Regions from separate parts of the Homo sapiens genome. Here region 2 is linked to region 1. Evidence: fine-mapped expression QTL. A gene starts in region 1. The other region holds a variant in brackets. All regions are shown on one strand. Distances are between the middles of the regions. Region 1 holds the start of TENT5A (terminal nucleotidyltransferase 5A). Region 2 overlaps LINC02542 (long intergenic non-protein coding RNA 2542).

Region 1 (5,373 bases):
TTTGGAGCAAGGGTAAAAATAAAGTACAAAATAATTGTAGTAGAGCTAAACACACACACATGCACACACCCTTGGTTTTTAAAGTACAGCGTGTCTAATATACGATCTATTACTTTGGCTTTGTTTTAAGAAGGGGCAGAATTCATACCGGTCTTTGAAAGAAACATTTTTAACAGGTCTTTTTTCTTTTCTTTTTCTTTTCTCTTCTCTTTTCTTCTTTACTCTTCTCTTCCCCCCCTTTTCTTTTCTTTTTCCCTTCCCTTCCCCTCCCTTCCTCCATTTCCTTTTCTTCTTTTCCCCCTCCCCTTCCCTCCCCTCCCCATCGTTCCTTCTTCCTATTTGTGCTTGTCTTGTTTTCCAATAAGAAGGTACTGATAAGCTACAGACCACTCGTTACCCCGTAATGACCACTAAACAGCATTCACAGCCAAATGGGTTGGGTTAAAGGCCTGACCCCACAACTTATTAGTTGTGGAACTTGGGAATGTTTCTTAACTTCTTGGATTCCTCTGTTTCTAGATCCCTAGGAGATGGAAATACCTTCTTCTTGAAGATTAAATTAGGTATTATGTTAAGGAGCTAAACAGGTTATAGCCCAGACGTGTTCAATAAGTTCCTGGTACTCATAAACCTTATCTCAAGGCACTACCAATCTCATTTATTAATCACGGGAGTGTACATATCCTTCCTCAAACATTCTCCAACTCCATACGCTTCCCTTTGTAGATAACGCTCTTCTCCTCTTTCCCCGACTACTGAAAGAACATCCATTCTTTCAAGATCCAGTCCAAATGACACCTTCTCGGGTGTCTCTCCGTTTCCTATGTAGTTAGCCCGCCACGCGATTGCGTCAGAATATACTTCTCTCATAATACATATGCAACTGAACCATAATTATGCACCTAGGTGCTATGCCCTCTAGATTACGTGAAATGTCATTCTTAAATCTTCAGCACTTAGCCTGTTGCCTGGCACGTAACAGGTCACTAAATGCTCTCTCTATACACATGCTCACACAAGAATATGCATATGTATATATATGTATAAAATGCCTGGTTAAGATAGATTCATGCGCCGATGGCTGGTCAGAGGAACACATGGGTGTGCTCTGAAGGAAGCGATGGCCCTATGCGGACAGGGTAGTTGTCCTAGAGTCCCCAGGCGCACCTCAGTGCTTAGGCGCAGCGCTGAGGGGATGGCCTCTGCCACAGAGACAGTCGGATTTCTCCATTTTGGGACGCAGCTCGGCAGGGCACCGGGAGGGGGCGGCGTTGTCACGCAGCTGGATGCTCCACGGGTGACACCCCCGCACCCTACCCCTCACCCCCGAGCCGCGCAGCTTGAGTGACTAGGCCGGGGCTCCCCCAGTTAGGAGGTGCGGGCTGTTTTTCCTCCCAGTCTGGGCGGGCAGGGCTGAGCAGGGTTTGGGGAGTATTCTGTGACCCTGGCATTCTCCCCTCTGCCCCACCTCAGCCCCCGGCAGCGTCTAGGCGCTGGGAAAGCTGCTCCGGGTTAGTTGATGGAGGCAGCGAGCTGCCGAAGAGACGGCCACAGCTTTCTAGCAAAGAGTGGTGGTGGCGCGAGTGAGCGTGCGTAGAATTAGCTCTGCCGAAGTCACCGAAGCTGGAGGAGAGAATTCATTTTATTCTTGAAACTCCTACTTTTACGTCTCGTGGAAAACCAAATCGTATTCCACTGACACTATGATGCACTTAAAATGGCCAAACTTTAGGGGGCCGCGAGGAACGCGCTTCGCCGCCTCCAATTTTGTCAGAGAACTCGCAGCAAAGGCACCGGACACCTAGCGGCCCTTTCCCTGGACTCCGGGGCAGCACGCACTCCCCGGGCGCGCTCTCTGCGCCCACTCGGCCCGCCCAGTCCTCGGCCATTGGCTGCTCGCCCGCGTCTGCTCCGTGACGCGCCCTGACCCCCGCGAAGTACTGGCCCCTTGGAGCCACTCGTGCGCAGGAGCCGCGCACGCCCGAGGCCCGTGGTGCCGCCCCCGCGCCTTCTCGGGCTCGCCCAGAGCTCCCCGGCGCGCTTCCCGAGGTTTCGAGAATCGAAACCCAGTTATCAACAAGCCCTTCCCACTCACGCGCCGTGACTGATTTGCGTGCAAGAGTGGACTCATGAGTCCACACTTGGATCGGGTTTATCAATGGAGTAAATGGTCTACCTAAAAACCGAGGTTTAAAAGAGCGGTCGTGAGGAACCTCCGGAGCCCAACCGTGATGATCTAAAGACGGGCTGAGTCCGCGAGAATTTTGGGAAGTTTCTGCAGTTGCAGGATTTTAGTCGTGATCTGGTTTTGATGACCACTTATGATTCCTGGGGCATTTAAAGTGTCTCCTCCTGGGGAAAATGAAAAGAGATTTGTGGGAGGGGGCGTACATAAATTAAATGTATGTATAAATACACGCATCTACGGGCGCACACAGTATCCGCACATACAGCCCAGGACCTCACGCTCACCGGCAGTCGTCCCGCACTAACTGCTGGGCTAGTCAGCTGCGTGCCCTGCGGGCGGGGGAGGGCAGAGGGGGCGGCGCCCTATGCAGATGAGGAGGGTGTGGCGAACGTGCCGCTCTGGGCCCCGGAAGCGCAGAGAAGCCCGGTATAAAAAAAGTACTGAAGACATTTTCCCCGCACAACTGCTAAAGCTCCAGAGACACGAGCGTGTGTGGCAGCAAGAGCCGCCAGTTCGGGACCACCGCAGCTGGGGTGGCAGCGGCGCAGGAGGGGTCGCGGGGAGGGAGTGGTGAGCGCAGGCGGCAGGGGTCTGGGAAAGACGAAGTCGCTATTTGCTGTCTGAGCGCGCTCGCAGCTCCTGGAAGTGTTGCCGCCTCTCGGTTTCGCTCTCGCTCGCTGCGCTCCTAGAAGGGGCGGCCGCCTCCAGGTGACACAGACGGGACTCTCGCTTGCGCTTTCCAGATGCATCAGAGATACTTTTGGTGCGGGGCTGCTCTGCGGGGCGCGGTGCGCGGCTGGGGACTGTAAGGGCCGGGGGAGGGAGTCTCCGAGGAGGCCCGGGGTCAGGGAACTATCGGGGGAGGGGGCGCTCTTTTCCTGGCGGGCCTCTGCTCTCCGCCGCCGCGCGTGCTCTCCGCCGCCGCGCGTCCTCACCGCGCTCCTTTCCCTTTCTTTTTAGGACTGACCAGGGCCAAGTGGCGCTCGGCGGGCACTACATGGCGGAGGGTGAAGGGTACTTCGCCATGTCTGAGGACGAGCTGGCCTGCAGCCCCTACATCCCCCTAGGCGGCGACTTCGGCGGCGGCGACTTCGGCGGCGGCGACTTCGGCGGCGGCGACTTCGGCGGTGGCGGCAGCTTCGGTGGGCATTGCTTGGACTATTGCGAAAGCCCTACGGCGCACTGCAATGTGCTGAACTGGGAGCAAGTGCAGCGGCTGGACGGCATCCTGAGCGAGACCATTCCGATTCACGGGCGCGGCAACTTCCCCACGCTCGAGCTGCAGCCGAGCCTGATCGTGAAGGTGGTGCGGCGGCGCCTGGCCGAGAAGCGCATTGGCGTCCGCGACGTGCGCCTCAACGGCTCGGCAGCCAGCCATGTCCTGCACCAGGACAGCGGCCTGGGCTACAAGGACCTGGACCTCATCTTCTGCGCCGACCTGCGCGGGGAAGGGGAGTTTCAGACTGTGAAGGACGTCGTGCTGGACTGCCTGTTGGACTTCTTACCCGAGGGGGTGAACAAAGAGAAGATCACACCACTCACGCTCAAGGTAACACCACCCGAGATGCACTTGGGTCCTGACCCAGTCTGGGCCGGGTGTGACGGGGAGCGGGCAGAGGGGCATCGGTTAAATGCCATGAATCTGTGGCCATCACGAGTTTGGGCGCGCGTTATTTCTTTGATTTTTGATTTTTTAAACCAGTAAACTGACGTGCGTGGACGGTGTTGAGTGTTTCAGTTTACTTGATGCTTTGGCGCTACAACTCTTCTCCCAGGTCCTCCTCTGCCCTCTCTTCTCTTCTTTCTCCTTATGTTTTAACTCTTGGCTTTCCCTGTTGGAGTCTTGTCCAGAGTAGATTCTGATACTTGGCAGAATGAAATGATGTAAATAATTTTTGAGTCATTATATTTGAGTCTAGCCTTTGGGAAAATAACAGCCTGAAGCAGAAGTGAGTCAATGAGTTTTTTATTGTACTGGAAAAGGTGAATAGATTTCACAGCGGCATTCAGCTGACTACGTGTTAAAGGTCTATCTGGTGGTTCTTCGTGCTGGTTCATATGTTAAGGGTATAGTGGCACCCCCTCCCCACCCTCCACTTTAGTTCAAGACGGGTTTTATATGATTAGTTAAAATTGTCTGAGGAGGCAGGCTCCTGGAATGTCATAATTTAGTTTATATTTGATTGTAACTGCAGGGTGCCCCTGGAGGGACACACAAGATACTGATAACATTGATTGCCGCAGGCGGAGAGGAATTGGGTGGCTTGGAACAAGGGCGAGAGGCTGACTAACCTACCGCTGAATGCCCTTCCGAGTCTTTTGAATGTTGTTTGGATACTGTGTGAATATTGTGCCTATTAGACCGTTTTCAAAAAGTAACACTTAAAAAGTCAGACATGACAACAAAACCTCTTACTACTGTGCTACGTCTGCCAAAAGCCTCAAACTATTACCTCTAGTCCCTTTCCCAGACAGTAAAACTACTCGTTAAAAGTATTTTTTTTCTATTTTCAGAAGACCGTTTAAGCCTGTAGGTAGTGTTTGGCTGAAACTTGACAAAACAAAAGGGAAAGAGCAAAATAATTCTCAGCTGTGAAGAGGATGTATTTATTTATTGATTTATTATTTTCTAGGTTTGCTCATTTTGTTTTATCTTTTAAATTGTAGGAAGCTTATGTGCAGAAAATGGTTAAAGTGTGCAATGACTCTGACCGATGGAGTCTTATATCCCTGTCAAACAACAGTGGCAAAAATGTGGAACTGAAATTTGTGGATTCCCTCCGGAGGCAGTTTGAATTCAGTGTAGATTCTTTTCAAATCAAATTAGACTCTCTTCTGCTCTTTTATGAATGTTCAGAGAACCCAATGACTGAGACATTTCACCCCACAATAATCGGGGAGAGCGTCTATGGCGATTTCCAGGAAGCCTTTGATCACCTTTGTAACAAGATCATTGCCACCAGGAACCCAGAGGAAATCCGAGGGGGAGGCCTGCTTAAGTACTGCAACCTCTTGGTGAGGGGCTTTAGGCCCGCCTCTGATGAAATCAAGACCCTTCAAAGGTATATGTGTTCCAGGTTTTTCATCGACTTCTCAGACATTGGAGAGCAGCAGAGAAAACTGGAGTCCTATTTGCAGAACCACTTTGTGGGATTGGAAGACCGCAAGTATGAGTATCTCATGAC
Region 2 (5,373 bases), 210 kb before region 1:
TATGAAGATGTTCCCATGTTTTCTTATAGAAGTTTTATAGTTTTAGCTTTTACGTTTAGGTCTTTAATTCATTTTGAATTAATTTTTATATATGGTGTAAGTTAGAGGTCCAACTTCATTCTTTGGCTTGTGGATGTCCAGTTTTCCTAGCACTGTATATTGAAAGCTCCCTTAATATTTTGCACATATATGTATAAGTTTTCCTATTTAAAATGATCTGTTTGTAAACTGGCTGTCATGCAGGGAGGGAAGCACTGATTTGCAGAATTGGTAATTTCCCTCGTATGAATAGTCTACCATGGCCAAATTTAAGCTAAGATGATATCACTGAACAGGGAGTTAGAAAGAAATATTAGTTAAGGGGTAGAGGCCTGGAATTATTTTACTTTGTCTTTCTTGCACCTGGCATATACTAAATACTCAAGTCTCACTTCATAGATTCTTATTTGACAAATATTTCAGAGTGCTTTCTATGTGGCAGGTAATTGTGCTAGATGCTGGGTACACAACGATGAAAATAAAAGCAAAAACAACAAACATACATGGTCCCTACCTTCATGGATATTATAATCTAGAGATATGAGAAATAATTTAGAAGTAAACCAGAAAATAACTAATAATTACTCATTATCAGCTGGGTGTGTTGGCTCACACCTGCAGTCCTAGCACTTTGGGAGGCCAAGGCAAGTGGATTACCTGAGGTCAGGAGTTCGAGACCAGCTTGGCCAACATGGTGAAACCCCATCTCTACTAAAAAGTACAATTAGCCGGTCATGGTGGTGGGTGCCTGTAACCCAGCTACTCAGGAGGCTGAGGCAGGAGAATCCCTTGAACCCGCGAGACGAATGTTGCAGTGAGCCGAGATCGTGCCACTGCACTCCAGCCTGGAAGACTCTGTCTCAAATAATAATAATCATAATAACCCATTATCAGTAAGATAAAGTGCACAGTGACAGAATTGCTTAAGCATTCCTGTCTAAAGAAGAGTTGGGGGGAGAAAAGCAAGCATGATGCTCTATACCTGGAAGGAGAGACGGAAATGATTATGTAAAGTGCTGAGGAAGAGCCTTTTAGGAAGGGGGCCAAGAAGGGCAAAGGCCTTGAGCCAAATGACCATAACCACTGAGTGAAGCTCAAAGGAGGCCCATGTGGCTGGGTTAGAAAGAGGAAGGAGAGTGCCCTATGCTAAGATGAGAGAGTTGGCGGGGGCCATATCATACATGGCCTTGGAGGCCACTCTCAGGTATTGGGATTTTATTCAAAGTAAAATGAAAACCCATTTATGGCTTCTAAAAAGACAGCGGGCATAATTGGATTTTTTAATACGAATTCTTTCTGTCTGTGTGAATAGAGTGGGTTTTTGAAAGCCATTGATGAAGTGGAATTGCAGTAAAGAAGCTTTTGAAGTGCTGCAGATGACATAGAAAGAAGTGGGCAGATTTGAGACTTTATTTTGAAGGGAAAGTAGAGACTTGATGACAGATAACATGTCAAGGGTGAGGCAGTCAAGGTGTCCTTCAGTCAAGAACTTGGGGAAAGAAAGTTAGACAAAACATAGTTCATTCTTTTTAAGAAGCTGTGTGCCAGCTAGCCCTGAGCTAGGGACTTTGAGTGATATAAAAGAGGTAGATAATGTATTATTCATACACAGAAAGTATAAACCTTGCTCCTAGTGAACCTTTTAAAATAAATTTTCTATATAGTTTTACCCAAATCTGCAAACTATAATAAATCGGTGTATATAAAGGTGTAAACTACTGCTGTATTTGAGGTCGAGAATATTAGTGTGAAAAGAATTCTGACAGCAAAAATCCTAGTGGGTTGATTAGGAATGAAAGTTTCATTGGGGTTAAAGTGTCTGAAGAAATTACAAGACTTGGGGCAGTGGTTCCAAGATGGCCGAATAGGAACAACTCCAGTCTCCAGCTCCCAGCTTGAGCGACGCAAAAGACGGGTGATTTCTGCATTTCCAACTGAGGTACCAGGTTCATCTTACTGGGGCTTGTCGGACAGTGGGGGCAGGACAGTGCAGCCCACCGAACGTGAGCCGAAGCAGGGCAAGGCATTACCTCACCCAGGAAGTGCAAGGGGCCAGGGAATTCCCTTTCCTAGCCAAGGGAAGCGGTGATCGACAGCACCTGGAAAATCGGGTCACTCCCACCCTAATACTGTGCTTTTCCAACCGTCTTAGCAAATGGCACACCAGGAGATTATATCCCGTGCCTGGCTCGG[A/G]GGGTCCCACGCCCACAGAGCCTCGCTCTTTGCTAGCACAGCAGTCTGAGATCAAACTGCAAGGTGGCAGCAAGGCTGGGGGAGGGGCACCCACCATTGCTGAGGCTTGAGTAGGTAAACAAAGCAGCTGGGAAGCTCATGCTGGGTGGAGCCCACCTCAGCTCAAGAAGGCCTGCCTGCCTCTGTAGACTCCACCTCTGGGGGCAGGGCATAGCAGAACAAAAGGCAGCAGAAACCTCTGCAGACTTAAATGTCCCTGTCTGACAGCTTTGAAGAGAGTAGTAGTTCTCCCAGCATGGAGTTTGAGATCTGAGAATGGACAGACTGCCTCCTCAAGTGGGTCCCTGACCCCCGAGTAGCCTAACTGGGAGGCACCCCCTAGTAGGGGCAGACTGACACCTCACACAGCTGGGTACCCCTCTGAGATGAAGATTCCAGAGGAACGATCAGGCAGCAACATTTGCTTTTCAGCAATATTCGCTGTACTGCAGCCTATGCTGCTGATATCGAGGCAAACAAGTCTGGAGTGGACCTCCAGCAAACTCCAACAGACCTGCAGCTGAGGGTCCTGACTGTTAGAAGGAAAACTAACAAACAGAAAGGACATCCACACCAAAACCCCATCTGTATGTCACCATCATCAAAGACCAAAGGTAGATAAAACCGCAAAGATGGGGAAAAAACAGAGCAGAAAAGCTGAAAATTCTAAAAATCAGAGCGCCTCTCCTCCTCCAAAGGAATGTAGCTCCTCACCAGCAACAGGACAAAGCTGGATGGAGAATGACTTTGATGAGTTGAGAGAAGAAGGCTTTAGACGATCAAACTTCTCCGAACTAAAGGAGGAAGTTCGAGCCCATCGCAAAGAAGCTAAAAACCTTGAAAAAAGATTAGACTAATGGCTAACTAGAATAAACACTGTAGATAAGTACTTAAATGACCTGATGAAGCTGAAAACCATGGCACGAGAACTACCTGACAAGTGCACAAGCTTCATTAGCCGATTCGATCAACTGGAAGAAAGGGTATCAGTGATTGAAGATCAAATGAATGAAATGAAGCGAGAAGAGAAGTTTAGAGAAAAAAGAGTAAAAAGAAATGAACAAAGCCTCCAAGAAATATGGGACTGTGTGAAAAGACCAAATCTACATCTGATTGGTGTACCTGAAAGTGACAGGGAGAATCGAGCAAAGTTGGAAAACACTGCAGGATATTATGCAGGAGAACTTTCCCAACCTAGCAAGGCAGGCCAACATTCAAATTCAGGAAATACAGAGAACACCACAAAGATACTCCTCGAGAAGAGCAACTCCAAGCCACATAATTGTCAGATTCACCAAAGTTGAAATGAAGGAAAAAATGTTAAGGGCAGACAGAGAGAAAGGTTGGGTTAACTACAAAGGGAAGCCCATCAGACTAACAGAGGATCTCTCAGCAGAAACTCTACAAGCCAGAAGACACTGGGGGCCAATATTCAACATTCTTAAAGAAAAGAATTTTCAACCCAGAATTTCATATCCAGCCAAACTAAGCTTCGTAAGTGAAGGAGAAATAAAATCCTTTACAGACAAGCAAATGCTGAGAGATTTTGTCACCACCTGGCCACCCTACAAGAGCTACTGAAGGAAGCACTAAACATGGAAGGAAAAACCGGTACCAGCCACTGCAAAATCATGCCAAATTGTAAAGACCATCAGTGCAAGGAAGAAACTACATTAACTAATGAGCAAAATAACCAGCTAACATCATAATGACAGGATCAAATTCACACATAACAATATTAATCTTAAATGTAAATGGGCTAAATGCTCCAATTAAAAGACACAGACTGGCAAATTGGATAAAGAGTCAAGACCCATCAGTGTGCTATATTCAGGAGACCCATCTCACATGCAGAGACACACATAGCCTCAAAATAAAGGGATGAAGGAAGTTCTACCAAGCAAATGGAAAACAAAAAAAGGCAAGGGTTGCAATCCTAGTCTCTGATAAAACAGACTTTAAACCAACAAAGATCAAAAGAGACAAAGAAGGCCATTACATAATGGTAAAGGGATCAATTCAACAAGAAGAGCTAACTATCTTTAATATATATGCACCCAATACAGGAGCACCCAGATTCACAAAGCAAGTCCTTAGAGACCTAAAAAGAGACGTAGACTCCCACACAATAATAATGGGAGACTTTAACAACCCACTGTCAACATTAGACAGATCAACGAGACAGAAAGTTAACAAGGATACCCAGGAATTGAACTCAGCTCAGCACCAAGTGGACCTAATAGACATCTACAGAACTCTGCACCCCAAATCAACAGAATGTACATTCTTCTCAGCACCACATCACACTTATTCCAAAATTGACCACATAGTTGGAAGTAAAGCACCCCTCAGCAAGTGTAAAAGAACAGAAATTATAACAAACTGTCTCTCAGACCACAATGCAATCAAACTAGAACTCAGGATTAAGAAACTCACTCAAAACCATTCACCTACATAGAAACTGAACAACCTGCTCCTGAATGACTACTGGGTACATAATGAAATGAAGGCAGAAGTAAAGACGTTCTTTGAAACCAATGAGAACAAAGACATAACATACCAGAATCTGTGGGACACAAAGCAGTGTGTAGAGGGAAATTTATAGCACTGAATGCCCACAAGAGAAAGCAGGAAAGATCTAAAATTGATACCCTAACATCACAATCAAAAGAACTAGAGAAGCAAGAGCAAACACATTCAAAAGCTAGCAGAAGGCAAGAAATAACTAAGATCAGAGCAGAACTGAAGGAGATAGAGACACAAAAAGCCCTTCAAAAAATTGATGGATCCAGGAGCTGGTTTTTTGAAAAGTTCAAGAAAATTGATAGTCTGCTAGCAAGACTAATAAAGAAGAAAAGAGAGAAGAATCAAATAGATGCAATAAAAAATGATAAAGGGGATATCACCACCGATCCCACAGGAATACAAACTACCATCAGAGAATACTATAAACACCTCTACACAAATAAACTAGAAAATCTAGAAGAAATGGATAAATTCCTCGACACATACACCCTCCCAAGACTAAACCAGGAAGAAGTTGAATCCCTGAATAGACCAATAACAGGCTCTGAAATTGAGGCAATAATTAATAGCTTACCA

The links. PIP is the estimated chance that this variant, and not a neighbour inherited with it, causes the effect. A credible set is the group of variants that fine-mapping cannot tell apart.
Region 2: its variant is the best candidate, but not a certain one, in a credible set for the expression of TENT5A in pancreas (GTEx, PIP 0.55).

What each region holds. Positions count from the first base shown.
Region 1 is chr6:81,749,954-81,755,326 of GRCh38, reverse strand. TENT5A (terminal nucleotidyltransferase 5A) reads left to right here and starts at 2,646. Exons shown (of 3, transcript NM_017633.3): 1 at 2,646-2,896; 2 at 3,149-3,737; 3 at 4,856-5,373. The coding sequence starts at 3,186. RefSeq lists enhancers at 1,575-1,624, 2,485-2,985 and a silencer at 2,445-2,574.
Region 2 is chr6:81,955,682-81,961,054 of GRCh38, reverse strand. All of the region lies in intron 3 of LINC02542 (long intergenic non-protein coding RNA 2542), which reads left to right. Among named protein-coding and RNA genes, the nearest start is that of LINC02542, 140 kb to the left of the region's middle. The variant A/G (reference allele first, on the strand shown) is at 2,233.